7 separate regions of the Homo sapiens genome follow, and all the other regions are linked to region 1. Evidence: fine-mapped expression QTL. A gene starts in region 1. Each other region holds a variant in brackets. All regions are shown on one strand. Distances are from middle to middle.

Evidence for each region. PIP is the estimated chance that this variant, and not a neighbour inherited with it, causes the effect.
Region 2: its variant is fine-mapped to the expression of PRKCA in whole blood (TOPMed, PIP 0.98).
Region 3: its variant is fine-mapped to the expression of PRKCA in T cells (TOPMed, PIP above 0.99). The same link has a PIP of 0.9 or more in sigmoid colon.
Region 4: its variant is fine-mapped to the expression of PRKCA in whole blood (TOPMed, PIP 0.98).
Region 5: its variant is fine-mapped to the expression of PRKCA in whole blood (INTERVAL, PIP 0.97).
Region 6: its variant is fine-mapped to the expression of PRKCA in whole blood (INTERVAL, PIP above 0.99).
Region 7: its variant is fine-mapped to the expression of PRKCA in blood mononuclear cells (TOPMed, PIP above 0.99). The same link has a PIP of 0.9 or more in anterior cingulate cortex, breast, cerebral cortex, tibial nerve, visceral fat and whole blood.

The regions. Positions count from the first base shown.
Region 1 is chr17:66,300,402-66,304,468 of GRCh38, reverse strand. It overlaps PRKCA (protein kinase C alpha), which reads right to left and starts at 1,856. Exons shown (of 17, transcript NM_002737.3): 1 at 1,445-1,856. The coding sequence starts at 1,617. RefSeq lists an enhancer at 561-1,062.
Region 2 is chr17:66,252,595-66,256,661 of GRCh38, reverse strand. No RefSeq gene overlaps it. Among named protein-coding and RNA genes, the nearest start is that of APOH, 25 kb to the right of the region's middle. The variant C/T (reference allele first, on the strand shown) is at 2,362.
Region 3 is chr17:66,817,848-66,821,914 of GRCh38, reverse strand. No RefSeq gene overlaps it. Among named protein-coding and RNA genes, the nearest start is that of CACNG5, 15 kb to the left of the region's middle. The variant T/C (reference allele first, on the strand shown) is at 1,568.
Region 4 is chr17:66,452,208-66,456,274 of GRCh38, reverse strand. The region is part of intron 2 of PRKCA (protein kinase C alpha); the gene reads right to left. Among named protein-coding and RNA genes, the nearest start is that of PRKCA-AS1, 37 kb to the right of the region's middle. The variant T/C (reference allele first, on the strand shown) is at 1,917.
Region 5 is chr17:66,419,983-66,424,049 of GRCh38, reverse strand. All of the region lies in intron 2 of PRKCA (protein kinase C alpha), which reads right to left. Among named protein-coding and RNA genes, the nearest start is that of PRKCA-AS1, 5.2 kb to the right of the region's middle. The variant AT/T (reference allele first, on the strand shown) is at 2,350.
Region 6 is chr17:66,367,796-66,371,862 of GRCh38, reverse strand. All of the region lies in intron 2 of PRKCA (protein kinase C alpha), which reads right to left. Among named protein-coding and RNA genes, the nearest start is that of PRKCA-AS1, 47 kb to the left of the region's middle. The variant G/C (reference allele first, on the strand shown) is at 1,932.
Region 7 is chr17:66,809,493-66,813,559 of GRCh38, reverse strand. PRKCA (protein kinase C alpha) reads right to left here. Exons shown (of 17, transcript NM_002737.3): 17 at 2,817-4,067. Among named protein-coding and RNA genes, the nearest start is that of CACNG5, 24 kb to the left of the region's middle. The variant G/C (reference allele first, on the strand shown) is at 2,450.

The DNA.
Region 1 (4,067 bases):
CATAGCTCTGTCTTGCCCGGAACTTCCTACACCACAAAGAAGAGGTAGAAGAGTCAGGACGTCGGGCAACTTAAAAGAAAAACCAAACTACTGCTGCTCTAACTAGAGGACCTAGAGCTCCTTTAGTTCCAGCTTTCAAAACTTTTGTGTGGTGACGGGGATCTGGGAAGAAGGGTCACACACCTTTTGAGGATCAGATGAAAGCTGTAATTCTCTCACCAGGAAAAAGATTCACAAACACAATTTCCCTCAGTTTTACAGGGTTCAGAGACCCCTGAAGCCCTTCTATGTATCGATTCTCCATAAGCCCCCAGGGACCCTCCGAGTTAAGAATGCCTGAATTCATTGGCGATTACCTGATCTCTGACCTCTGGCCCTTATATTATTTTTCTTAAATAAGGCCTCTGCCCTCATCAACAGGGTTACAGGTCTAATCTCGAGTTGACAGGGTCTGTTTCATTTTTTTTGAGACGGAATCTCGCTCTGTCTCACCCAGGCTGGAGTGCAGTGGCCCGATCTCGGCTCACTGCAGCCTCCGCCTCCCGGGTTCAAGCGAGTCTCCCGTCTCAGCCTCCCGAGTAGCTGGGATTACAGGCGTGTGCCACCACGCCCGGCTAATTTTGTATTTTTAGTAGACGGGGTTTCACCATGTTTGCCAGGCTGGTCTCGAACTACTGACCTTAGGTGATCCGCCTGCCTCGGCCTCCCAAAGTGCTGGGATTACAGGCGTGAGCCACCGCGCCTGGCCGACAGGGTCTATTTTAAATGAGTCCCTCTGCCCTTGTGCCATTTGCCTGCTAGAACTCCCCCTCCCCCACTGCAAGCTTTCAACAGTTTGCTCTCTCTCTCTCTGCTCACTCAGAAAAGTCAGTCTCTCCGTGCCCAGTAGATGCAGCCTACAGTAGGCAGGGGCCCAAGATGCCAGCGCAGTCCAGCCCGATGGGAAGCACAAACACAACCCCCCCACCCCGAACGCGCCCAGCCTGGCTCGCCAGCAACTTGGACCGCGCGCAGTGCAATCGCCGCCGCTCCCCCGTTACTCCGGGGCGCGTTTCTCCGGGAACCTTTGCCCCCTTAGGGCCTCTCCTCCTCCCCTGTCCCCTGGGCTCACACCCCGGCAAGCGGCCGCTCCGCTGGGTGCGTGCGGGTGGGCGCGCCCGGGGAGGTGAGGGGCCCGGCCCGGAGAGGGATCCCCTTCGCCACCGTACGGGGCCAGCCTCCCTCTCGCGCCAGGGGGTGTGTGTGGCGGGACGGCGACGTCCCGGGAGTCCTGCCCGCCGGTGTCAGGGCCGGGCGCGCGTGTCACTCCGGGCGAAGAGTTCGGACTCCCGCCGGTTCCAAGTTATCGGAGTGAGCCAGCCCCGGGGCGGACGCGCCGGAGCGCCGGGTGCCGGGACCCGGAGGCGGGGAGGAGCGGGGCAGGAGTGCCCGGCCCGGCACCTACCAGATGAAGTCGGTGCAGTGGCTGCAGAAGGTGGGCTGCTTGAAGAAGCGCGCGATGAATTTGTGGTCCTTCACCTCGTGCACGTTCTTCTGCCTCAGCGCCCCTTTGCGGGCGAAGCGGTTGGCCACGTCCTGAGACGCCGTGGAGTCGTTGCCCGGGAAAACGTCAGCCATGGTCCCCCCCAACCACCTCTTGCCTCCGCCGGGGAGCTGCGGCCGCGGAGGGCCGGGTGGGCGGGGGCGGCGGGGGAGAGGTGCGGGCTCGGGGCGACCCCGGGCGCGGGGCGCGGGCCGGTGGCCGAGGTCGCGGCGAGGGGGCGCGGCGGGGGCCGGGGAGAGTCGGGCTGGTGCTGCGCGGAGCGGGAGCGGGAGCCGGAGCCGCTGGCTCGCCCGCTGGCCCCAGGCTCACTGACAGCCCGGTGCCCGGCGCTCGCGCTTCCTACTCGCGGCGGCAGAGGCGGCCCGGAGCGGCACCGCCCACCGCGCATGCCCCGAGCGCGAGGCCGCGAGGACGAGCGGCGGGGGCGCGCGGGCCGGGCGCGCGCGGGGGTGCGGCGAGGGTGCGGCGGCGGCGGCGCTGAGCGGACCGGACCGAGTGCGGAGGAGGCAGCGAGTGCCTTGCGGTGCTGGGAACACTGGGCAAGGGGAGGCGGCGGCGGCGGCGGCGGCGGCGGCGGCGGCGGCGGCGGCGGCCGGGGGAGGGCCGGCCCGAGTGGGGATGCGGGGGAGGAGGCCGGGAGTGGCGGGTCCGCGCTCCTCCGCCGCCTTTTTCTTTCCTCCCCTTCCTGCGCCCGGCTCTCCTCCCTCTCGCCCTCCTCCGCCTCAGTTCTCCTCCTCTTCTTCCGCTCTTGCCGCCCGGCCTCCTCCTCTCCCGGTCTTCCTTCTCCCACTCCCGCTCTCTCTCTTGTCGACGGGCTCGGAGTCCTGCGCCACCCGTGCCGGGCCGAGAGGAGCCCGCGTCCGGGAGTGGGCTCCACGCGCAGCCCCTGCCCCGGAGCCTCCCGCCCGGTGCTCACCTCCTAACCCCTCAGCACCCGCAGCAGGGAGCCCCTTCCCCATCCTCAGGACCCCCGGTGTCTCCAGGGCACGACGCCCGTGTTTTAGCTGCCTGTACCAGCTTGAGGTTTCACCTGGCCAAAATGTCACTTTCATCACGTGTGCACTAAAAGACCTAGCCCCTAGACCTTCCTACAGGAGGAAGAGAGCGATTTTTAAATAATTAAGCATTGACCCTTTCCCCTACCTTCTCTTCTTGACCTATACCTTATTTCACCTGCGTGTGGTAGAGACTTTTAATTTGTACGTCGGGCATTTATCACCACGTGGGATGGTTAAAGGACTTGTCTTAGGTATTTATCCCGTTATTCAATGGCCACCAGAGCGACGATGTTGATTATCAGGCTTTCTTGATTTTACAAGTCCAGGACCTTAATTTAGAAATCATTTTGCATCCCAAGCTAATTACTGCAATACTGTCAGGTGCAGAGTGCAGCCAGTACGTTTGTAACTTACCAAGTAAAACTGCCTGTGAAAGAGTAGCGGGCATGGCTATGCAAAGGACGCAGGTGGGGATGCACCAGCTAATCACTCGCTGAATATTTATCAGGTCTGCCTGGAGGCCGCTAAAATACATAAGGGAAATAATCATTTCTCAGCGTTTCATTGGTGTTTTGTTTTATTTGCCAGATTCACGAAATCCCCAAAACGACTTTACGAGCTAAAGAGACCAAGAAAGAGAACACGTTTGATCCTTCAATAAATTTATGTTGAAAAAAAAAACTTTTCTAAAATACTTTCTTAGAGCATGTAACATAGGCCAAGTAGAGCTAATATTGTTTTCTTTGAGATTGCCTAATTGTGATGCTTGATGATAGGAATGTCCTTTATATTTTTAACAAATGGAAGCTCTCCTGACTGGCCGTCAGTGGTGCATGCACTTGACTGATCCATTTACAATCTCTTGAGCCAGTCTTGGTGCTTCAAGAGCCTGCACCTGCCTGGTATTCTAGCTGGTCAGAAATTTCGCCACTCATGGTCGCCCCTCGGGTCCAAGGAGTCAAAAAGGGAAGAAGCAAAGAGGAATGAAGAGCAGGGCATGTTGGGGAAATAGTCCCAATTCTCCATGAAACACTAGAAGCATCTCAAGCCATGGTGGTTTATTGCTTGAAAGCAGAAATCAAATGGAACATAGTGGAATGAAATAATTTCTTTTCTCATAGTCGTCTTTTATCTAAGACGGAGATCCTGGCACATTTTACAAAGACAAGCTTATTTCTATGTCCCTGAGGCTTTCATAGGAGGATGGAGAGAGCTGGAGGGTGAAGTTGCTGATAATGGAATCCTGAGTAAAGTCATAGGAAAGACAAGAACAGAATGAGCCCTGGCAGCAGCCTGCGAATCTCCTGTGTACTCCATGGAGTGACTGTCTTAGCTGTCAGTAGATCAGATGGAACAATGTGTCTGTTTTCTTTTAGGTTGTGGCTTTGCATTCTTGCCTCAGTTGTTAGTGTTGTTCCTGGTGGGTACGAGGAGGAATGATTGACTGGAAGTCAACTGATTCATGGTTGGGCTGGGCATGAAAGCATCAATAGCCCACATCTTAGCTCAGTTGGGGAGAGGGGACT
Region 2 (4,067 bases), 48 kb after region 1:
TGAGCCACAGTTTCCTAATCTGAAACAGGGGCACGATAACTTTTGCCTGATAAAATGTTGTAACGTGATATGGCAGTTGGGAAAGATCTAGTACTTAATAAATCTTTTTTTTTTCTTTTTCTTTTTTTTTTTAGATGGAGTCTCGCTTTGTCACTCAGGCTGGAGTGAAGTGGCATGATCTTGGTTCACTGCAACCACTGCCTCCCAGGTTCAAGCAATCCTCCTGCCTCAGCCTCCGGAGTAGCTGGGATTACAGGTGCCTGCCACCATGCCCGGCTAATTTTGTGTGTGTTTTTAGTAGAGACGGGATTAAGTCACGTTGGCCAGGCTGGTCTCAAACTCCTGGTCTCAAGTGATCCACACACCTTGGCCTCCAAAAATGCTGGGATTACAGGCGTGAGCCACCGCGCCTAGCCAATAAATCTTCATTAATCTCAATGTTGCCTTCTTTGTGGCAGAGTCTCTTCCTGTTTAGCTTAAGGACTTGTAGTGTTCCAAGGAACTACAGCGACTAGATGATACTGCCCCTAAAATTATGTACATCTTATCTTAGAACCTTTAAAATAAGACATCTGTCATTTCTCAAGAAGGACAATAATAAGATCTGTAGTAGGTAGCAAATTTTGATCCTGAGCAGGTAGCTTAGGACGCCAATTTCATTAACTTCCCACCGGTTTATCTTCTGGGGCAATGAAGGATTAATTTAAAAAGTACTACATCCTGAAGACTGAAAAGAGTTTTACGGAAGAGCATATACAAGTTCATGAGTACCTTCTCTATTGGGTATATGTGGGCTGTGGGCTGTGGGTTGAGAGCAGCTACCCAGAGGCATAAAAGCATTCTCATAAGTTGCAAAGCAGGTACAACGCTAATTGAATTTGTTCTGCTCAGATGACATACTCTCCAGGAAAGAAAAAAAAAATGTTTTCCTGCTGTGAAATTGGTTTGCTGGTGTTCTGACAAATGAAAGCCTTATAGTAAAGGCATCAACTTTAATTATTCATTTCTATTTGCTTAAAGACATATTCTTATGTGACATACATATGCTCATACATTTCCTTGTTGTAACAACATGAACTAAATAAGTCACTTTCACACATAAATGAAACTCCATGAATTATTATTGCTAACGCACGTTCTCTATATTATTCAGCTGGAGAAAAAGTAATGTTTGTGTAATGGGGAAGAATTACAGAGCGAAAGATGAGGATCTTTTTAGTGTTTTTTTCAGGTAGACAGGAAAAAAGGCAAAGGCTACCATCTGCTATTACTGATGATATTACTGAGGAATTGATACATTTCTATCTATAGAGATTTATTAATGTACAACTGGTTCTACAACTTTATTTGTTCAGTCTACATAACCAAAATGAGGCTTCAAGTCCGGAAGTTCCCTGTTACCCAAGGCAAACGTATTAGGGTCTGTTCTGCCATCTGGTGTTCTTTGAAGGAAACATCCACAGAGGCATTATGAGATAAATAGCCAGTGTTGCCTATGTTGGTGGTGGGTGTTACAACCTCGATGAAAAGCAATTCCAGAATCTCTGCCAAATTCCAATAGGAGATAATTTGAGAATATATATTAAGAAGAAAAATATACATACCCTTGGAGTACCAATTTCACTTTTATGAATTCATCTTTTGGATATATTTATACATGTGCACAAAGAAATGTATATAAAAATATTCCTAGCAGTACTGTTGGTAATAGCAGAAGATTGGAAACAAGCTAAACATCCATGAGTAGGGTACCAGTTAAATAAATTGTGACATATTCCTACAATGGATATAGTATAGCATGTTGTTGTTTGAAAAAAAAGTCAAATCTATATTTACAGATATGAAATGATCACCAAGACACACACACACACACACACACACACACACACACACACATATATATGTGTATATATATATATTTTGTTTTGTTTTGTTTTGTTTTGTTTTAGATAGAGTCTCACTCTGTCACCCAGGCTGGAGTGCACTGGTGTGATCTTGGCTCACTGCATCCTCCGCCACCCTGGTTCAAGTGATTCTCCTGGCTCAGCCTCCCAAGTAGCTGGGACTACAGATGCATGCCACCACACCCGGGTAATTTTTGTATTTTTGGTAGAGACAGAGTTTCGCCATGTTGGCTAGGCTGGTCTCGAACTCCTGACTTCAGGTGATCTGCCCGCCTCAGCCTCCCAAAGTGCTGGGATTACAGGCATGAGCCACCACACCTGGCACCAAAACATTGTTAAGTGAAATAAACATGATCAAGAACAATGTGTATCGGTAGGGTGTGGTGGCTCACACCTGTAGTTCCAGCACTTTGGGAGGCCAAGGGGGGCGAATAATCTGAGGTCAGGAGTTCGAGAC[C/T]GGCTTGGCACCAACATGGCAAAACCCCGTCTCCACCAGAAATACAAAAATTAGCCAGTCATGGTGCATGCGCCTGTAGTCTCAACTACCCTGGAGGTTGATGCAGGAGAATCACTTGAACCCAGGAGGCAGAGGTTTCAGTGAGTCAAGATCATGCCACTGCACTCCAGCCTCGGCAACAGAGCAAGACTATCTCAAAGAGAGAGAGAGAAAAAAAGTAACAACATGTGTAATATGCTGAAATTTGTATAAAAATGTTCATAATGCATAGGATATTTCTAGAAGGTTTAATCAAAAATAAAATTTTGAAGGCCTCCCCACAACCATAGGAATGGACTTCCTCCTTGGCCAGGACACCTAAAATTTAGCCTGAAAGACTTGTTCAGGCCATGATGGGGAAGTGGGGGTCAGATATGCCTCATTATACCCCTCCAGCATTAACATCAATGCAGACTTTTAAGTCTGATATGAAACATTTACAATCTAGTCTCACTGAAGCCTGTTACTGCTACTTGGAGGCTTCATCTGCAGGATAAAACTTTGGTCTCCACAACCCTTTATCTTTTTTTTCTTTTTGAGACGTAATCTTGCTCTGTCACCCAGGCTGGAGTGTAGTGGCGCAATCTCGGCTTACTGCAACCTCCGCCTCCTGGGTTCAAGCGATTCTGCTGCCTCAGCCTCTGAAGTAGCTGGGATTACAGGCGCCCATCACCATGCCTGGCTAATTTTTGTATCTTTTAGTAGAGACAGGGTTTTGCCATGTTGGCCATGTTGGTCTTGAACTCCTGATCTCAGGTGATCCACCTGCCTCGGCCTCCCAAGGTGTTGGGATTACAGGCACGAGCCATCATGCCCGGCTTCACAATCCCTTATCTTAATCACAGTATAATTAAATCTACCTATGACCTGGAAGCACCCCCTAATCTGCCACTGCTTCAACTTGTCCCACCCTTCCAGATCAAACCAATGTTAATCTTACATGTATTGATTGATGTATTGTGTCTCCCTAAAATGTATAAAAGCAAGCTGCACCCCCAACCCCATCCCCTGCTGACCACCTTGGGCACATGTCATCAGGACCTCTGAGGCTGTGTCAGTTGCATCCTTAACCTTGGCAAAAATAAACTTTCTAAATTTGTTGAGATTTGACTCAGATACTTTTTGGTTTACCAAGGATACTCAAGAAAGTGGTTGGCCGGGTGTGGTGGCTCACACCTGTCATCCCAGCACTTTGGGAGGCTGAGGTGGGCGGATCATGAGGTCAGGAGATCGAGACCATCCTGGCTAACAAGGTGAAACCCCTCTCTACTAAAAATACAAAAAAATTAGCCAGGCGTGGTGGCGGGTGCCTGTAGTCCCAGCTACTCGGGAGGCTGAGGCCGGAGAATGGCGTGAACCCAGGAGGCGGAGCTTGCAGTGAGCCGAGATTGTGCCACTGCACTCCAGCCTGGGTGACAGAGCGAGACTCCGTCTCAAAAAAAAAAAAAAAAGAGTGGCAACCGTGATTGACTTTGAGGGCAAGAACCAAGGTGATCACCAGTGAGAAGGTAACTTCTCTCTCACTATTTACATATTGTACTGTAGAAATACTTTTCTTTTTTCTTTTTTTCTTTTTTGAGACAGAGTCTCACTCTTGTTTCCCAGTCTGGAGTGCAGTGGCATGACCTCTACTCACTGCAATCTCCGTCTCTTGGGTTCAAGTGATT
Region 3 (4,067 bases), 520 kb before region 1:
TCTCGTTGTGTCTCACAGGCTCTGCCTAAACCAGCCACTGGTAAGGAAAATGGAATTCCCATGACGGGCTTATGCCCAAGAGCATCCATGCCCTGGGGCCCTGGAGGATCCAGGGAGGGCATGGTTATCATAAATCAGCCCCAAACTGGAGTTCTATTAGCAAGAATTTAGGCTCTTTCCAATGACCTGTGAAGTAGATATAGCAGTTAAAGCATCCGCCTAGCAGAGCCCTTCTCAGAAGGGATCTCCCTTTGTTCATCTCTTTGATGACGGGATGGGCAAGGTGGCCCTGTTTTGTGTCAAACAGCTTGCTCCGCTCCGCCACAGATGAATGGACCAGACATGGGAGCCTGACCCCTGACAGTAAATCCAGCCAACTTGTCAGTGACCGATGACATGGCCGGACCCACACATGCACCGGGCCATAGGATTCCCTCTCTCAGGGCAAAAGTACCAGGTGAGACCCACTCATCAATGGACGCTGATGTGAAAAGCATGATCAGAGGCTAAGGAGGGGCCAGAAGAAGTTGTGGTCGGTTGACCTTTTGAGAAAATGCAGGCTGGGGAGGAAGAAATGCACCAGGAGGTTAAAGGTTATATCCTGTGTGCTTCCATTTATATCACACTCCTGAAATGACAAAATTACAGTGATGGGGAACAGAGCTGTGGTTGCCAGGGGCTACGGTGGGGGGTGGGGCAAGATGACAAAGGGGTAGCATCGGTGAATTTCTTTCTGGATAGAAGAGTTCTGGATCTTGATTATGGTGGTGGTTACATGAATCTATACATATGATTTCATAGTCACACACACACACACACACACACACACATAATGAGTGTATTGTGTATGTAAAACCTGGTGAAATTCAAATAAGGCCTATAGTTTAGTTAAGAGTATTCTAACCCCATCTCTATTTAAAAAAAAAAAAAGAAATACAAAAAAGTTAGTCAGGCATGATGGTGCTCTCCTGTAATCCCAGCTACTCCGGAGGCTGAGGCAGGAGAATTGCTTGAACCCAGGAGGCAGAGGTTACAGTGAGCCGAGATCGCACTGCTGCACTCCAGCCTGGTGGGTGACAGGGCGAGACTCCGTCTCAAAAAAAAAAAAATTCTACTGTGTCCCTTTTCTGGTTTTAATAATGTACTAATGTTAAGTAAGGTGTTATCATTGAAGAAGCTGGGCGAAGGGTACAGGGGAACTATTTTGGCAAATTATTTTGAGTCTTAAATTATTCCAAAATAAAAAGTTCCAAAAAGAGAAAGAGGCTGAGGAGCTTACATGAGTGAGAGAAAAAAAATCCATCTCCCAGAGCTGCCTTGGCTCTAGAGATTTCCAGCCCAGAACTGCCTTGGCTCCAGAGATTTCCAGCGCCAGCCCCTGGTTGGGTCCATCTGTGTTTACTGCCACCCAAAGAGGCGGAGCAAAACAAACATCTCGTACCTAAGTCTTTGGTGCATTTTTGGTTATTTCTTTAGAGGAAAAAGATCCCCCAAAGCAGAATTGCTGTGTGTAAGCACATTTTTAAGACTCTTGTTACTTAGTGCCAAATTGCCCTCTAAAAAAGAT[T/C]GTACCAATTTATATTCCCACCCACAGGGCATGAGAGGGCAGACTTTCCCAATTCTTGCCAAAATTGGGATTTAATCTTTCAAGAAAGCATATTTTCTGCCAAGTTAACAGATAAAAACATGGTATTTCATTGTTCTTTTCCTCCAGGAATTCTAAATTCTTTTTTTGGACCAAGTTGGACTAGATAATTGGTTATTTACCTGGAGACTTGGGTTGAGTTTCTTGGTCGGTCACCTTCATGAAGTTGTATTTTAATATGCCCCAAACTTGACGAAGAACACTAAAAAAAGGCTTTATGAAATTTGATAGTGCATTTATTGTTTCAACAAAACTTCAAAATGTTGTTGAGGACATCATTTCTGATATTGCTTGGTGTCTTTTCTAGGTAATAAAATTATACTCAAGAAATTCCTTTTGGATTCAGTGCTAGGAAAAGCTTTATTTCCCAAAGGAACACATATGCTTCCTCTTTTCCAGTAATGACAATCACATAAGTGACCATGGTTCCCACTTTTATTGGCTGTTAGAAAATGCAAAGCCAAGTTTGAGAATCAACAACAGCAATTTTGTTGACTCTTGCGGAAAAGGGATGTGTTGTAGTTTGTTTAATATTGCTGTAACAGAATGCCTGAGGCTGGGTGATTTATAAAGAAAAGAGGTTTCTTTAGCTTATTGTTCTGCAGGCTGAGAAGTTCAAGGCCATGGCCCTGGTTTCAGTGAGGGCTTTTGTGCCGCGTCACCACATGGCAGAACGTCAAAGGGGAAGCAGACACCTGAAAAGGGGCAAAACCCGAGGGGCATCCTGGCTTTCACACAGCCCGCTCAGGAGGGAACTAATCTATTCCTGAGAGAACTCACTCCCTACTTTGAGAAGAGCACCATGCCATTCATGAGGGATCTGCCCCATGACCCAAACACCTCGCACTGGCTCCCAATTCTCAAACGCTGCCACACTGGAGATCAACTTTCAACATGAGTTTTGGTGAGGACAAACTACATCCAGACCACAGCATTCTGCCCCTGGCCCCATGAAACTCATGTCCTTTTCCCATGAAAAATACAATCAGTGCATCCCAATAGGCTTCAAAGTCTTGACTTGTTTCAGCATCAACTTAAAAGTCCAAAGTCTCATCTGAGACCTAAGGCAAGCTCCTTCCAGCTATGAGCCTGTAAAATAAAAAGCAAGTTATCTGCTTCCAAGACAAAACAGTGGCGCAGACATTTGGTAAATATTCCCGTCCCAAAAGAGACAAATAGGCCAATAGAAAAGAGTAACAGGCCCCACACAAGTCTGAAACACAGCAGGGCAGACATTAAATCTTTTTTTTTTTTTTTTGAGACAGTCTCACTCTGTTACCCAGACTGGAGTGCAGTGGTGCCATCTCAGCTCACTGAAAGCTCCGCCTCTTGGGTTCACACCATTCTCCTGCCTCAGCCTCCTGAGTAGCTGGGACTACAGGTGCCCGCCACCACACCCGGCTAATTTTTTGTATTTTTAGTAGAGACGAGGTTTCACCATGTTAGCCAGGATGGTCTCGATCTCCTGACCTCATGATCCGCCCGCCTCAGCCTCCCAAAGTGCTGGGATTACAGGCATGAGCCACCACACCTGGCCAAACATTAAATCTTAAAGCTTCATAATAATCTCCTTTGTCTCTATGTCCCACAACCTGGAGGCGCTGGTTCCAGGGCTGGGCTTGCAAAGGCCTCAGGCCTTTATGTCTAGTATGCTGCCATGTCTTTGTTGGGTGCAGCCCATGTGGCTACTTCCATGGGTTGCAGTTGGGTGCCTGTGGTTTTGCCAGATGGATGTTGTATGCTGCCAATGGCTCTATAGTTCTGGGGTCCCAATGGTGACCCTGCTCCACACTAGGCATTGCCTCAGTGAGAACTGTCTGTGGTGGCAGGTTTCTCCCTGGGCTCCCAGGCATTTTGATATATCTGTGAAATCTAGGTGGAAGCCACCACACTTCTACCACTCTTGGTTTCTGCACACCTGGCCTGCAGAACTAGTACCAAGTGGACATGGATGCCCCAGCCCTGCACTGCTTTGTGACTGCTTCCTGCTCAAGCAGCCCCAGGTTCGACTCATGCCTCCACTCCAAAGAGCCTAAGTGGTAAGCATTGGTGTCATCATCATTTCCATCTGACACCTCATTATCATGGCCTTTACTGTCCACGTTTCTATTGGCATTCTGGTCATAAACACTTAACCAGTCTCTTAGAAGTTCCAGCTTATCTTCTAAGCCCTCACCAGAATTGTCCTTAATGCTCCACTCCAAGCAATGCAATCTCTTTAATGCCTGTTCCTTCAAACTCTTCTAACCTCTGCTCATTATCCTGTTCCAAAAGCCACTTCCACATTTTCAGGTATCTTTATAGCAACACCCCACTCTTGGTACCAGTTTTCTGTCTTTATCCATTTTGTGTTGCTATAACAGAACACCTGAGACTGAGTAGTTTATAAAGAAGCAATTTGGCTTATAATTCTGGTGTCTAG
Region 4 (4,067 bases), 150 kb before region 1:
CCACAAGCTGGGTAACTCAGAACAGGAATCTATTCTCAGAATTGCTACTGGAGGACAAAAGTCTGGAATCAAGGCATTGATGGGGCTGGTTCCTTCTGGAAGCTCTGAGAAAGAATCTGTTCCTCATCTTTCACTCCTAGTTCCTGGTGGCTCCTGGCAAATCTTGGCATTCCTCGGTTTGTAGATGCATCGTTCCAATCTCTGCCTCCAGTATCTCGTGGCCTTCCTCCTGTGTGTCTCTGTGTCTTCACCTGGCCTTCTTACGAGAACAACAGTCAATGGATTTAGTGTCTACCCTAATCTACCACCACCTTAACTATTTACATCTGCAGAGACCCTATTTGCAAATAAGGTGACATTGTGAGGTTCTGGACGAGCATGAATTTTGAGGGAACATTGTTCAGCCCAGTACAGAGAGAAATCAGAAAAGAGAGAGCAAATAAATGAGTGTAGCTAGGCCTACTGCACAGGCTGATATGAACGTCTCACTCCCTTCTCAGATGTTCATTTACAGATGAGGAAAAGAGCAGAAGGCAGGCAGGCACTGAAGTTTCTTCCCACCCTTGTGTTCTTAGATATTAAGTGGAAAGAAAACCCCACACAGGTAAGATCCCAGTTAATCAAAATGTCACAGCAGGGCCTTTTCTCCAAGTCCACTAAGTTGATGGATGAGTAAGTTTGACTCAGCCAGACTTCCATCACCTTTAAAAGTTAATCAGTGTTTACAGAATAAAAGAGATGAAGATAATCCTTAGAAATTTGGAATGATAAATGATCATAAAGCCTATGGCTTCGCTGATGCTTCTGCATTTACCATCATTTTCCTGGCAGCTCCAGTTCAAAGTGCTTCGGGGGACCTTTTCTTCTCACAGCATCAACATAAATGGCCGTCTTCTATATGTGAGCACTCAGCACTCCTGGCAATTTCGTGGCAGCTGTGTGGCGATAAGAGGCCCTTTATTTTTTCAAGCACATTTGTGAAGTGTGTGGGGAGCCGACTAAAATTAATGAACTTTTCTTGCCAAAAAGAACTAGGCTCCAAATTCGGTCATGTATTGCCAAATAGACGGTGTGAATGAAAGTCAGTTCGTGGGGAGAATAAGAACATTTCAAAGGAGCACAAGTTGAATACAAGCAGTCCCTGACTCACTTATGTGGACTTAAAGATATTCCTCATCTGGGAAAAATAAGTCCAGACCTATAGCTGCGTCGACCACAGTTCCCTCCATCCCCAGTTTCTCTCAGCCCTCTGCATCCCCTCAACCCCCACCTTCCCTCCACTGCTGCCTGGGTCCGCCATCTGCCGGCCCTTCCATCCTGTGGTCAGGCACCTGCCCTCACCTGGCTCACCCCAGGGCCCACAATTGCACAGAGTAAAAAGGAGAAAGGAAGGAATCTCCAGTAGAAGCTTCTCTGCCCTGGGGCTGGCCACCTTCCAAACCTTAAACCTACTGATACGGTTTAGCTGTGTCTCCACCCAAATCTCATCTCGAATTGTACCTCCCGTAAATTCCTACACATTGGGGGAGGGAGCCAGTGGGAGTTATTAATTGAATCATGGTGGACTGTTCTCGTAGTAGTGAAGAAGTCTCATGAGATCTGATGGTTTTAGAAAGGGAAACTTGTTTCGCTTGGCTCTTACTCTTGTCTGCTGCCATGTGGATGTGCCTTTCACCTTCCGCCATGATTGTGAGGCCTCCCCAGACACATGGAACTGTGAGTCCATTAAACCTCTTTCTTTTGTAAATTGCCCAGTTTCGGGTATGTCTTTATCAGTAGCATGAAAACAGACTAATACACCTACCCAGATCCTGCCTTCTCCAACCCTAAACACCCAAATCTGGGTTTTCTACTAAAAAAGAAAAGAATGTTTTATCATTTATCCCAAATTCCATGACACTCACCTCCATGGTCTT[T/C]GCTGTTACCTGGCATTTTTGCAGCCCCAGGTCCAGCCTGCATTTGTCTGCAACTGAGGCATTAGGCCCCTGGGACTGTCAACCCCAAAATGCTTTCCCCAGGAAGCCAGCACACTGACCAGGGAGTCCACAGGGCCTTAGCACCTACAAAGCTGCCACATGCAAGTGACTGCCCAGAGAGGGCAGTGGGCTTGGTTCATCCAGCAGACTGTAATTGAAGCTGAATGCAATTAATTGTATAATTTTGAGTCATTTCAGATTAATTCTGCTAAAATCACAACATGAAACTAGGGCATGAGGAGGAATTGTTTTCAGAAAGAAGCCAGACATAAATAAAGTCTACATAAGCACTGGCTTCACATCCAATTCTGACAGTTTAGCATGATAACAACTGAGGTTATCAATAAACAAATTAATTTAGCCCAAATACACAGAAATCATATCCCACAGCTTTAAAAGCCTGGATGCTCCTGCTATTGGATCTGAAAAAACCCAAAGTATTCTGACTTGCATGTAAGCTAAATGGTCACACTTAAAACCTTAAAAAATATCTGCGTGTTTACATCAGGGAGAGAAAATTTGAGTAAAACCCAATGTTAGTCAGAACAACCCAGAAGAGTCCCAGGAAGCCCTACTCTGATTTTTCTCCCCAGTGGATGCCCAGCTCTTAAACCAATTCGACCTACAGCAGACGAGGGCGGCGCAAAGGGAGGCAAGCAGGGCAGTTCTAAAGATCAGGGGGGCTGGGCGCAGTGGCTCACGTCTATAATCCCAGCACTTTGGGAGGCTGAGGTGGGCGGATCACCTGAGGTCAGGAGTTCGAGACCAGCCTGGTCAACATGGCGAAACACGTTTCTACTGAAAACACAAAAAATTAGCTGGGCATGGTGGCGGGCGCCTGTAATCTCAGCTACTTAGGAGGCTGAGGCAGGAGAATCGCTTGAACCCAGGAGGTGGAGGTTGCAGTGAGCTGAGATCAAGCCACTGCGCTCCAGTCTGGGTGACAAAGCAAGACTCTATCTCAAAAAAAGAAAAAAAAAAAGAAAAAAAGGATCACGGGACCCAAGGCAAGGGGACTGTGGATCTGTACGAGGGCACATGGGTTCTAGTTCCCAGTCTTTTCCTGGGATTCCCTCAAGTCCCCAATGCCTGCCTTACCCCAGAGCCTCTGTTCCAAGTCAGGAGCTCCATCTTCAGTGGTTTCAAGCTTGGGATATTTCCACATCCGTGACCACCTAGCCAGTGGGAAGTGAGGGGAATGAGGGCTCCAGTTCCATTTCCTAAGCCACTGTGGGGAAAAATATTCTTGGCCTTCCAGGCAGGACTCCTAAATGCCACCAACTGTACAAATGTGGCTGAATGTGACACACAGCACATCTCGATGCTACAAGCTCAATGGGGGTTCAAACAGGCACTTGCGGTTAAGACACCAGCCCTTATAAACCTCATAATTTCTAGTTATGTGTTTTGTTTGTTTTTTTGTTTGTTTGTTTTTGAGACGGAGTCTCGCTCTGTCATCCAGGCTGGAGTGCAGTGGTGCCATCTCGGCTCACTGCATGCTCCGCCTCCCAGGTTCATGCCATTCTCCTGCCTCAGCCTCCTGAGTAGCTGGGACTACAGGCACCCGCCACCACGCCCAGCTAATTTTTTGTCTAGTTATGTTTTGTGACCCAAACAGTCACTGTAGAAAGGAAGTTCTGGAACCCACTGGTGGGTTTCTTGGATGTTGTTTTCATCACAGGTGCAGAGGCCGCATTCCTGAAGGCTTCAGTGCAATAGGAACAAGCCGGGCCAGTTCCTATCAGGCAACAAAAACACTCCTCGAGGTTCTCAGAACGCACAACATTTCAAGAGGAAATAAAAACCCCAAGATAAATTTCGGCAGATCCTTATTCTCGCTATACACAGCTGCACTTCTCCCTCCTCACCCTGCTTCTTCCCTAGTTCTGTCTTCCTGTTAAGCCTCACAAAAACAGATGATCCTTTCCCGAAGGGACCACATAGAAGGTTCTGGAAGCACCTGTGCTGCACCTGGATTCTGGGGCTCTCCATTCCTATCTGAGGTCTGGCTCCTTAGCAAACGCTACATTGGCTAAGAAAAAGATGAAGACTTCAATGAGGTCATCATAGGCACCCAAATAAAAAGAAAGG
Region 5 (4,067 bases), 120 kb before region 1:
AGTTCACAGCTCTCTACACTTCTGCTAAGACAGCATTATCATAATGCTGCAAAGTGCCAAAGAGAATTGTTTTAATAAACAGGGTTTTTATGCTCTTAAAAAACTTGAAGACAAGCACTTGATTCTATTAGCTAAAGTACACTGCAGCTAGCAAAGGATTCACGGTGGAATGGAGCCACATACTGCTGTCTCCAAACTGACATCACCGGCACTTAAAAGATTGAATTCTTAAACACATTCGGCTCCAGGGAAGCGCTCCCAGACTAATTAGAGTTATCCATGCAAAGTTCTAGAACTATAAGTGTGCTTTAAATATTTTTTACTGCATGGTATGATTGTGTTTCTCAACTGGGGGAGGCCACTCAACTAAACCATAATTACTATTGCAGATTACCTGGGAAGAAAAACAGTATGCATTAAAGGCTTCAGTAACAGCCAGCTTTAAAGCACAGACAGTGACCAGGACTGTCAGATGACTTCCCTAGGGGACTTTCTTCTGAGTCAGGTAATTATTGTATGTAAATGATGCTTCTAAAGAGATCTGTAAGTAATGAACATCTTTCTTAGTCATATCATTCCAAACTATTGTTAGTAAATCCCTTGTTTATAGATAAAAATTTGAGTCCAACCTCTCTGAATTATCAAACTATCAAACCTGCAAAATCCAAATAAGGCAAGATTTCCAAATATGGGATCATAAACATGTTAAGCACAACTTTTCACTATGGTGCATAAAAGGTTGCATCAGACAAGAAACCGGGCATAAAACAAAGTACTACCAGCTTGATGACATGAGGGGCAAAATCCTCGCTGCATTCCGGTGAGACTCTCTCAGCATCATGAATAAAATTAAATCACTATCAATCCCCAACGCTTTTGCTAACAGAGTCCAGAGTTCTAAGAGTACCTCCTTCTCTGCAATAATACTTTTTTTTTTTGAGACAAGGTCTCGCTTTTATCACCCAGGCTGGAGTGCAATGGCGTGATCTGGGCTCACTGCAACCTCCACCTCCCTGGTTCAAGCGATTCTCCTGCCTCAGCCTCCCGAGTAGCTAGGATTACAGGTGCCTGCCACTATGCTCAGCTAATTTTTCTATTTTTAGTAGAGACGGGGTTTCACCATGTTGGCCAGGCTGGTCTCGAACTCCTGACCTCAGGCGATCCACCTGCCTCAGCCTCCCAAAGCGCTAGGATTACAGGTGTGAGCCACCATGCCCGGCCTGCAATAATGCTTTAATGAGGTGAGAGCACTATCTACCTGTGGTTATTGAATGAATCCAAGATTGCTTATAAATAATCCAACCACTGTGTTAAAAATAAGAGTGTCACGGTATATAAAAATGGTTTGACACGGGCTCTCTTATGTCCTAGATTGCATGATGCTGCTGGAAAGACAGGACTGGCTAAAAGAAGTTGGTCCTGTTGACTGGCTTCAGTGTGAGATTCTCTATTTCTATATTATTGCACAGAGCCCTGAAGCCAGTGAAAATCCTCACTGCCCTTCTGGGCCTTTAGAACATTTTGAAACTAACATGTCTTCAGGGCATTCCTTTATCCTTCTTCCAGATATGACATGTATTCATCCAATAATATCCAACCTATATTTATTGAGGGCTTACGCTATGCTCTAGGTGCTAGGGATACAGTTTTATGAATAAAACAAAATTCCTGTTTCATGTTCTAATCCATGACACATCAAATAATTATTAACTGAGCTCTTGAAACAGAACTGCCAATGTACTACGAAAAAGTGAAGTGGGTGTTATGAGCTGAACCTCACCCCCCAAAAATTCATGTTAGTCTCCCCTCAAATCACTCATGTTAAAGTCCCAATCCCCAGTATCTCAGAATGTGACCTTATTTGGAAATAGGACCTTTTAGAAAGGCAAGAGGGTTATATGAGGTCATTAAGGTGGGCCCTAATCTGGTAGGACTGGGATCTTTATGAGAAGAGATTATGACAAACAAGGACAGAGAGAAAACCACGTAAAGATACAAGGAGGAGATGGCATCGACGAGGCAAGGAGAGAAGCTCCAGACAAAACCAACCCCCTGCTGACACCTTGATCTTAAACATCTAGCCACCAGAATTGTGAAAAAATAAACTTCTGCTGTTTAAGCTACCCAGTCTGTGGTACTCTGTCACAGCAGCCCTAGCAAACTAAACAGTGGGTAAAAAGGAAAAAGTAGAGAAAAAGAAATTTCAAGGCCAGGCATGGTGGTTCACACCTGTAATCCCAACACTTTGGGAGGCCAAGGCGGGTGGATCACTTGAGGCCAGGAGTTGGAGACAAGCCTGGCCAACATGATGAAACCCAGTCTCCACTAAAAGAAAAAAAAAAAAAAAAA[AT/T]TAGCCAGGCCTGGTGGCGGGTGCCTGTAATCCCAGCTACCTGGGAGGCTGAGGCAGGAGAATTGCTTGAACCTGGGAGATGGAGGCTGCAGTGAGCTGAGATGGTGCCACTATACTCCAGCCTGAATAATAGAGTAAGACTCTGTCTCAAAAAAAGAAAGAAAAGAGAAGAGAAGAGAAGAGAAGAAAGAAGAAAGAAAATTTCAGAGCTATCTTTCCCTATAAAGCTGAAAATCACTTGATAGAGCTATAAAAAAAAAAAAAAAAAAAACAGAGGCTGTGGCTGAGTTCTGACATAATTACACAAACTGACAATAGAGGTAAGTGGTCAAAGGGAAAAGGGACTGCCCCTTCCTTCCAGAAAGGCAAAAACCTGAAACTGGCCCCTAAAGCAGTTCTCTGTTCCATTAGAAGAGCCTGTGAACTCCCATGACAAACACCAAAATCTTTTTACTCTCTCTCTAAATTACTCAACCAAAATCCTTTAGTTTCACTTATCTTCCTCCTGAGCAAAAGCAGAAGGCAGTATGCATGTGCCCAACTGGAGTAGCCATCAGGCAAGCATTTTATCAGGCAAGCATTTTTCAACTTCACTGGAGTAGCCATCCAACATGCGTTTTTCATCTTCATTGTGCAATGACGCTTGGACTCCGTCACCAGACAGTCATCCACCAATTTAGAACCTAGGAAGACAGGTTTCCCATGACAGCATAACAATAATGCATTATCAACAAGCTAGTAGAAATTCCAGTCCTTTCTTTCTTCAGGGTTAATTTCTCTCATTATGTGAAGGGGGTTTTGAAATTCCACAAAGGAGGGGAATGCAGGGGACAACGACATCACTGAATTCCAAAACTTCAGGCCAAAAGAGAACATTGATTTGACTGTCTTCTTAGTCCAAAACTGGTCTCAAAATGATAAAAATCGCCAGTCAAAATCCTCCAAATGTCTTTTCTTCCCTCTGACTACAAATGCTCCATGCTCCTCAACCTAGAATGGGTTACATCCCGAAAAACCACCATATATTGAAAGTATTGTCGTGCATTTAATACACCTAACACCATATCGTAGCCGAGCCTACCTTAACCGTCCACAGAACACTTACATGAGCCTACAGTTGGGTAAAATCATCTCATGCAAAGCCTATTTGATAATAAAATGTTAAGTATCTTGTGTATTTACTGAATGCTGTGCTGAAAAATGAAAAACAGAATGGTCGTACAGGTACTTGAAGTACAATTTCTACTGAATTTCTATCACTTTTACACCGTCATGAAGTTGAAAAATCTTAAGCCAAACCATGCTAAGTTGGGACCATCTGTATTAGTTCTGACTCTTGACTAAAGCTTAGACAAAGCTGATGCTTCATAAACTTTAAGAACATGTCCCCTGGCCAGGTGTGGTGGTTCACGCCTGTCATCCTAGCACTTTGGGAGGCCAAGGCAGGTGGATCACCAGGTCAGGAGATCAAGACCATCCTGGCCAACATGGTGAAACTCCGTCTCTACTAAAAATACAAAATTAGCCGGGCGTGGTGGCATACTTCTGCAGTCCCAGCTACTTGGGAGGCTGAGGCAGGGGAATCGCTTGAACTCAGGAGGCGGAGGCTGCAGTGAGCCGAGATTGCGCCACTGTATTCCAGCCTGGTGACAGAGCAAGACTCCGTCTCATATTTAAAAAAAAAAAAAAAAAAAAAAGAACACAACCCAGAATGGGG
Region 6 (4,067 bases), 67 kb before region 1:
AGACTTGCCTTGTGCCCAAAGAACCACTTTGAAGGTGAAAATCCACCGTCTGGATTTTAGGCAATATTGCCAGATGACAAAGGGTTGGGTCATTCGATGGCACCCTGCCTGCTCTAATGTATCACCTAGTGGCCTTTAAAAAGCAACATATATATTACAGATAAAACAGTCACAGTGTCGCTTTATGCCAGGCCCTATTCTAAGATTTTTACACATAGTAATTGATTTCAATCTTATAGCCATCCAGTGTGGCTAGTGCTCTTATGCTGTTATTATCCCCATGTTACAGATAAAAAAACTGGGAGTTAAATAATTTGCCTGAATCACAAAGTTAGAAGTGGCAGAGCTGAGATGTAAACCCAGGCAGTCTGGGTCCAGAGCTATGCTGTTCATCAACCAGAGCAGACTGTCTCTCTCAGGTTCAAATCTCACCCCCGGTTTCCATTGAGGAAGATCATTTTGAATGAGTCTTATATGTGGATCTGAACTTCAGAATGGTCATTTCACAAACACACAGAAAATGGTGAAAGGCTCTCATGCAGAACAGGTGGTTGAAACAATTCTCTCTTCATTCTGAACTCCTCTCAACCTGATCAGTGACTCCAGGGTAGGGTCAGGCAGTTTTAGAATCAGGAGATGAGAATTCTGGCTGCACTGCTGATGCTAAGTGATTAACTCTAGATTTAACTCTTCATTGGTTTAAAATGTGATATTTTGGCCAAAGATGGGGGAACTTGGAAAGAAAAAACTGCAAAAATACATACATCATATCTTATTTGCTACTCGCATGCTATAATCAGATATAATCCCAAATTTGTTCTCTTTTGTTGGAAATAAACAGGATGTGATTTGTTTCGGAGATTCACTAAGGAGAAATGCTACAGGCAACATGCCCTCTTACAAACCAGCCTGCCCCTGCATCTAGCTTATCTGTATAATACAGCACCTATGAGATTACACTCTGGGTTTGAACCCTAGCTTTGCTGCTTACTCTCTGCTCTCAAGCAACTTAACTTCTCTAGGCATCAATATTCTTCTCTGAAAAACAGAAAAATAGGATGGGCAGTGGTGGATCGCTTGAGTCCAGGAGTTCAAGACCAGCCTGGGCAACATAATGAGACCCCGTCTCTACAAAACATAAAATGTTAGCCGGGCATGGTGGCATGCACCTGTAGTCCCAGCTACTTGGGAGTCTGAGGTGGAAGGATTGCTTGAGCCTGGGAGTTCCAGGTTGCAGTGACCTATGATCACACCACTACACGCATCTTGGGCGACAGAGTGAGACCCTGTCTCAAAAAAAAAAAAAAAAAAAAGAAAAGAAAAGAAAAAAAATAGTATCAAATCTATAGCGCTATTGTGAAGATTAAATAATTATACAAAGTGCTGACCTCACATACTGCACCTGGCAATGCCTCACTAACTGTTAACCACTGTTCGCCATCCCTGTCATTAAAGCTTATCAAAATAGCCAGCTATGGTGGTGTGCACCCGTAGTCCCAGCTACTCCAGAGGCTGAGGCAGGAAAATTGCTTGAACCCGGGAGGCAGAGGTTGCAGTAAGCCGAGATCATGCCACTGCACTCCAGCCTGGGCGACAGAGCAAGACTCCATCTCAAAAAAAAAAAAAAAAAAAAAGTATCAAAATAGCTTTATTTATCGCTTCATTCAATATAATTATGTCTGTGCCACTGTGGAGGTTGAGGGGATGTGGAAGGACTGTCCTTACCGTCAGGAAGGCTTCCATCAAGTACAGGGAACAAGTAGGGCGACCACATGTTTGAGTCTGCCCAGACAATCCTGGTTTATGACTGTTGTCCCAGCTTAATTATTAATGGCTCTCCTCCCTTCACTTTCAAAAGTGTCCTGGTTTAGAGGATAAATATGTTCACCCTAATGATAAGACAACTGAGCTAGAAATACCTGCAGTGCTTG[G/C]CAGTACCAAACAGGTCTCCTGGCAGTGATGCAAACAGGCTGCTCGAGTTCTTTGGGGATGGAAAGCTCCATTCTGCATGTGGAGGGAAGGAAGGACACTTGGAGGTAGCAGTGGCAGGGGCTCAACAGAGGCAGAGGACACCTGGGACAGGAATGCAGCCAACTCAGATGGAGGATGGAGAAGCCCAGCACTCAGTGGGCCATCACGCCACCCATCCCCTCTGTTCTCCCAGAAAAGAGTGGACAGAGCCAGATCCAATAGTGAAAACGGGCAGGTGCATTGCTTATTGCTCAGCAATGCCACAGGTTTTACTGGACTAGTTGGGATAGAGATGGAAAATGCTTGGGGATGAAATAAGTACCTCAAGGCATCCAAGTTAAAAAATTTCAAGCTTATTAATCCATCCCAGCACCAACTGCTTTAATCTGATCAACATCTAGCTGAAGTCAGCCTCAGGGAATTTTAATAAGAGGACAGGAAGAGGAGGAATCACCTGCAGAATCACTGATACCCCTCTCACAGGTCCCTCCTCCTCCCCCAGGTCCCTCCTCCTCCCCAGGTGCCACCCTTGCTGTTTTAGGAGGGAATTTTGGAACCAGACAGCAATCTTCACATGATCCTCCCGTGGAAGTACTGGGATATCTTGGACCTCATTAGGCTGGGGTAGTCACCAAAGCTCATAAAAAAGAGGCAAAATCTTGGAGGCTCTGCAATAGCATCATCTGTGATGAAACTCCAGGACTTTACAGGTTTTACCTGGGCCTTCCCTTAGGCAGAGTTTCTGATCAACACAAGCTGAATTATAAGCTGTATTATCTGAATTATGGCTAACACACAGCTCTGGCCTAATGCCTACAAGCCACCCTTTCACAACCACTTGGGAAGAAGGTGACAGAAAAGGACCGATGGAATATTCTAGAATGAGATGCTTGAGAAGAAAGCTCACGGAATCATGGAGTCAACCCCCCTCACGATCTACAGATTACGAAACTAAAAGCTAGAGAGGTTGAGATGTCTCCTGGGTCAGGTAATTTGGGCCAGGCCAGGGAGCAAGACTCAGGCCTCTAGCTAACCCCTTTACTCTAAAACCAACTAAGCTGAGAGGTCAACATGAATTGCAGTACTTTACATTTGTATAAAACTTAATTTGTGAAATTGTGTCCACATCTATCTTCCCATAGGAAGCACCTTTTCTGTCTTTATATTATGAACGAGAAACATGAAATATGCAGGCTAAGAGACCAGGCATGGTGGCTTATGCCTGTAATCTCAGCACTTTGGGAGGCTGGGGTGGGCAGATTACTTGAGCTCAGGAGTTCGAGACCAGCCTGGACAACATAGCGCAATCCCGTCTCTACAAAAAAATACAAAAATTAGCCGGATGTGGTGGTGTATGCCTGTAGTCCCAGCTACTCAGGAGGCTGAGGTGGGAGGATCACTTGAGCCTGGGAGATGGAGGTTGCCTTGAGTCGAGATCGCACCACTGCACTCCAGCCTGGGTGACAGAGACCCTGTCTCCAAAAAAAAAAAAAAAAAAAAAAAAATATATATATATATATATATATACATATACACACACACACACACACACATATATACACACACATATAGATAAACACACACACACACACATATATGTGTGTATATATATAGGCTAAGGGATTTGCTCCAGACCAAAGGTCACTGGAATTGTCAACAATTGAGCCTAGATTTTCAAAATCCCCAATCACCTACAGTAATTTAACTTAAAATGCACAGAATTCTGTACAAGGTAAGAATTGCCAAAATTAACCTTCAATCTCTTACACAGATGTTCTGGTAGAAATGCCACTGAATGGATGGCTGGGATCCCACGGTTGGAGTTCTGAGTTCACAGTATTGACCAATCTGCCAAGTACCTCTCAGAACAGTATGGTGATGTGATGTTACTCATTCATGTTACTCCCTATGAAGAGGAACTGCACCTGTAAGTTATTTTATAAACACAGGGAATTCATTGTAACTGATACCTCTTAAGTGCTTATTTAGGATTAGCATGCAACAGTTTATTGAGCAGCTATTTTGCAGAGGGTCTTTCACCTGTTCACTTTAGGTTTGTGAGCATAGTCTCATAAATTGGTATCCATTTAGCAAAT
Region 7 (4,067 bases), 510 kb before region 1:
CCCTGCTCTCTGTGATGTGCACTCCCAGGATGGGGACAGAGTGTGAAAATAGATGGCCTTGGCCTTTGCCCGTGTGCATTAGCATTTTAGCTGAACCATAATTTCATCCCCAGAGCACACAATAAGCCAGGGGCAGGGGGGAAGCTCAGGGAGTTAAATAATCACTCAAGTGTAACCATAGGCAGCCATCGCCTCTAGATTCTGGGCTGAAGGACAGAGGTTGAGAACTGGTGTTTCCTAGGCTGAAGCTCATCATGAGTTTGAGAGATGATCTTTAATTAGTTCTTTTTTGTATATCTTATCTACTTCATTAGTGTGTGAACACCTCCAGGGCAAATCCCATGGCCCAGTAAGGGTGTCTGGAACACGTTGCTAGGCTCAGAGCAGTTTTGGGAACGATTAATTGACTCAGTCATTCAATGAACATTTTGAGCTCCTATTATCTACCAGGCTCTGCTCTAGGCACTGGGATGTAGCAGCAAACAGGATGGACAAGCCGGCTCCTCTTAGAGCTTCTATTCTCATGGGAAAGGGTGTGCGTATACACACACACACACACACACACAGAGAGAGAGAGAGAGAGAGAGAGAGAGACAGAGACAGAGAGAGAGAGAACTCACTCTCCCCAACCATTGAATCCTTGGTCCCAGAGCTGGGCATGTGAGGATGAAAGGCCATGAGGAAGGCTGGGTGATGGGAGCCACAGAGGGCTTTCAACAGGGAAGGGGCCTGCTCAGGCAAGGTCCTGCTGGCTGCTGAGCAGAGAGGGCCATGAGGGTCAAGGAGGCCAGAGAGAAAGAACAGGGGAGATGGAGAGAAGGGGAACTCGGAGTGTGTTTTAGAATAGGGTTTGTAACAGCAGCAGCGCCGACATTTGGGTGGGATGACACCTTGTTGAGGGCTGGGGGTATCCTGTGCATGGCAGGATGCTTAGCAGCGCCCCTGGCCTCTACCCACTCGATGCCAATGCAACTTCCTTCTAGTTATGATAACCAAAACAGTCTCCAGGCATTGCCAAGTGCCCCGTGGGTGGCTACATGGCCTCTGGCCGAGAACCCTGACTTAGAGTAGCCCCAACAGTGCCTGCTCATGAACTTGATGGGCATGGTGGGCATGTGACAGGGAGGCCAGTACTGGACAGAAGGACTCGTTTTTGAGCATCCACTTTGGGTGGCGCACAGTGCCCCTGGAAGAGCAATTGTCCACTGCCTGGTGCTCAGGTTGTCCCTGCTGCCTCTGTGGGGCCGGGAGGACCAGCCATATTGGATACACCCGAGACCTCCCTGCAGGGGTAAACTTGGGTGGAGCTACTCAGTTCCTCGGGTCACCAGCTGCCTGTGAGGATGCTGCTTGGTGGCCCACTCTGCTTCATTCCGCATTGCAGCAAAAATGAAATAAAACAGCACACTGGCGGAAGCAGAGGGCATGCTCAATGGCCATGGTAAGCTACTCTGCTGGGCAACGTAACGTGACGAATAGCCACAGCTACACACGTATGTGAGGTCAACCAGCCCGGAGTGAAGGTCAGGGCCAGCCCAGTGGGGCAGAGACCACATTGCTCTGAAGACCTGAAAATTGCCCTTTGTTTTTCTTCAAAATAGCTTCCCCGCCAGCCCTCGCATTGGCAGCTGAAAGAGCCTTCACTTCCAGGAGGTTGAGTGTGACCGCGGCATCTTAGGGAGGGAAAAATCCACTGAGAGGATGCTGACACTCGAGTAATCTGGCTGGGAGCAAGGCCCAGAGGGAAGAGAACGCAGGGAGGCATGTGTGTGGATGCAGAGTGTGCTGGGAGGAACAGGCTGGGCTGGGCGGCTGCAGGATTAGGGGGCTATGGGAGGGAGGGTGGCAGCAGTGGGTTGAAGCCATGAGCACGAGGGGAGAGCATTCCCCAAAAGGAGGTGAGGAAATCAGCAAAGATTGACTTTACCAAGGTTGGATCTTGGCTTTGGTGTTTGTTGTTGATTTTTTTTTTTAAGAGACAAGGTCTCCTTCTGTCACCCAGGCTACAGTGCAGTGGTGCAATCGTAGCTCACTGCAGCATTGACCTCCCGGCCTCAAGTGATCCTCCCACCTTGGCCTCCCAAAGTGCTGGGATTATGGGCATCAGCCACCATACCCAGCCTGTTTTAATTCTTTTTGAGGACAATTCCCTCTATTGCGTTGAGTTGTTAAGTGCTGGGTATTTTTGAATGTTCCACATTTGAACATTTCCCCCAATTTTTCAACCGTGAATAAATGCAGAACGAGGCGGCTGACACTCAGAGTGGGGACGGTCCTGAAGCTGCATCCACAGTGTGGCCAACGGGATGTGTGAAAAATACCTATTTTTGGAGAAAACATCTCCAGACTTGAGCAGAATTCATTCTGGAATCGTTCCTTCCAGGGGAAGGGCACCATCCAGCCTTAGATGATGTCATCAGTTGCTGGGCATCCCTTGCAGTTTGGGGCA[G/C]AAGACTGTAAGCTCCGTGCAGGCAGGGGCCATGCCAGCCTCTTCTTCTCCAGGGCCTGACACAACTCCTGGCCCTAAGCAGGGGCTCTGTGAACAGTGCATGAATGAATGAACGCAGGACCTGCCAGAACGCCATCCCAGTCACTGTCTGGGCTTTGATTCAAAGCAAGATATATTTTTTAAGTAAAAAAAAAAAAAAAAAAAAAAAAAAAATGCCACTATAAATGGAGGGTCATGCCTGAAAAACAGGTGAAGAGATGAAAGTGTTCTGCGGAGTGTGTCTGAAGTCAAATGCTATTTTTTGAACACTGGAGGAAAAATAATTGCCATACCGCAAAGGGATGTAAATAAGGCCAACTACACAAAGGAATGATCATTATCTTTATTCATACACACTTGCTTCCAAACTACAATTAATGTTTCTAACAAAGCGTATCATGCAAACGGAGATTAGAGGTTATACAAACTGAAAAAAAAAGCAATGCAGTAATTTACACATCCGTCTCCTCTGCGATATAACCAAATGGTGTTTGACGGTTGAATGGCCTCTACATTTTGTCAGTAGGTGCTTATACAGAAGGAAAAACCTCAACCTCCGTCTCTTCCTCCAAACAAAGTTGGGGCTTATATGATGTTTTTCAATTAATGATTTAAACGTGGTATGTCCTTCACACACACAAATCATGTAGCAAAAGCAATGACTTCAAATGCTTCTGTTTATAAAAGATATTCTGAAAGACCCTAACAGAAGGGATGTGAGGTTAATTTTTAGAAAACCTTTAGACTCAAAATAGTAACTGCCTTCATGATTGATTTTGAATATTCTAGTAAACCAACCCTTCAAGAAAAGAATGATATTCTTCCAGGAAGAATATCAACAAAAGTCTACAATCACAGGAATGGATACTCCTAAAGTTAAGCAGAGGTGACAAAGACACAGTCGTTTAATCAGAAAATGCAAAGCCACCTTTTATCTTATTTTAGAAAAAAAGGTTCTTATAAAGTGGACTTGACACCTATTTTCTGAAAAGCCGAGTTCTGTCTACTCGCGTAAGTGGTAACTATGAAACAGACGTCAATAGGCACGTTTGCTGCTGCCTCTTATATCTTGGGAGATCGAAGTATTTCTGAGTTGCCCAGTGGGCAAAATCCTTACAGGGCATCTCTGAATCTTCACCCAAGGTGAGAGACCTGGGGACCAGGCGGGTCTGGGCACAGAGCCAAGGAAGCATCCTCCTCCTGCCAAAAGATGGCCACAGAGCCTCACGGAGCAAGGAAAGGGGTCCCAGAAACCCCTGGGAATCCTATTCCAGGGCTGCCTCTGGATGGGGGACACTAAAAATGTCTTTCCTGTGGTTTGGAAGTTTCTAAACCTTAAGCAGTTGTCCCCAGTGTCTATTAAAAACTCGCAGAGCATCAGTCGGCCAAGTTCCACCTGAACTTGCAGTCATTCCCACGTGGACTCCATACCCTAGGAGCATGGGAAAATCTGGCAGTGGGAGATCAGGTCGGGGGTGCTCCAGCTGACCCAGGCTAAGTCCTCCTACAAGCTCCAGGGCATTGGAATCTTAGGAAATCGTCAGTTGCTTTGTTCTAAAAACTCATTTTTAAAGAATTA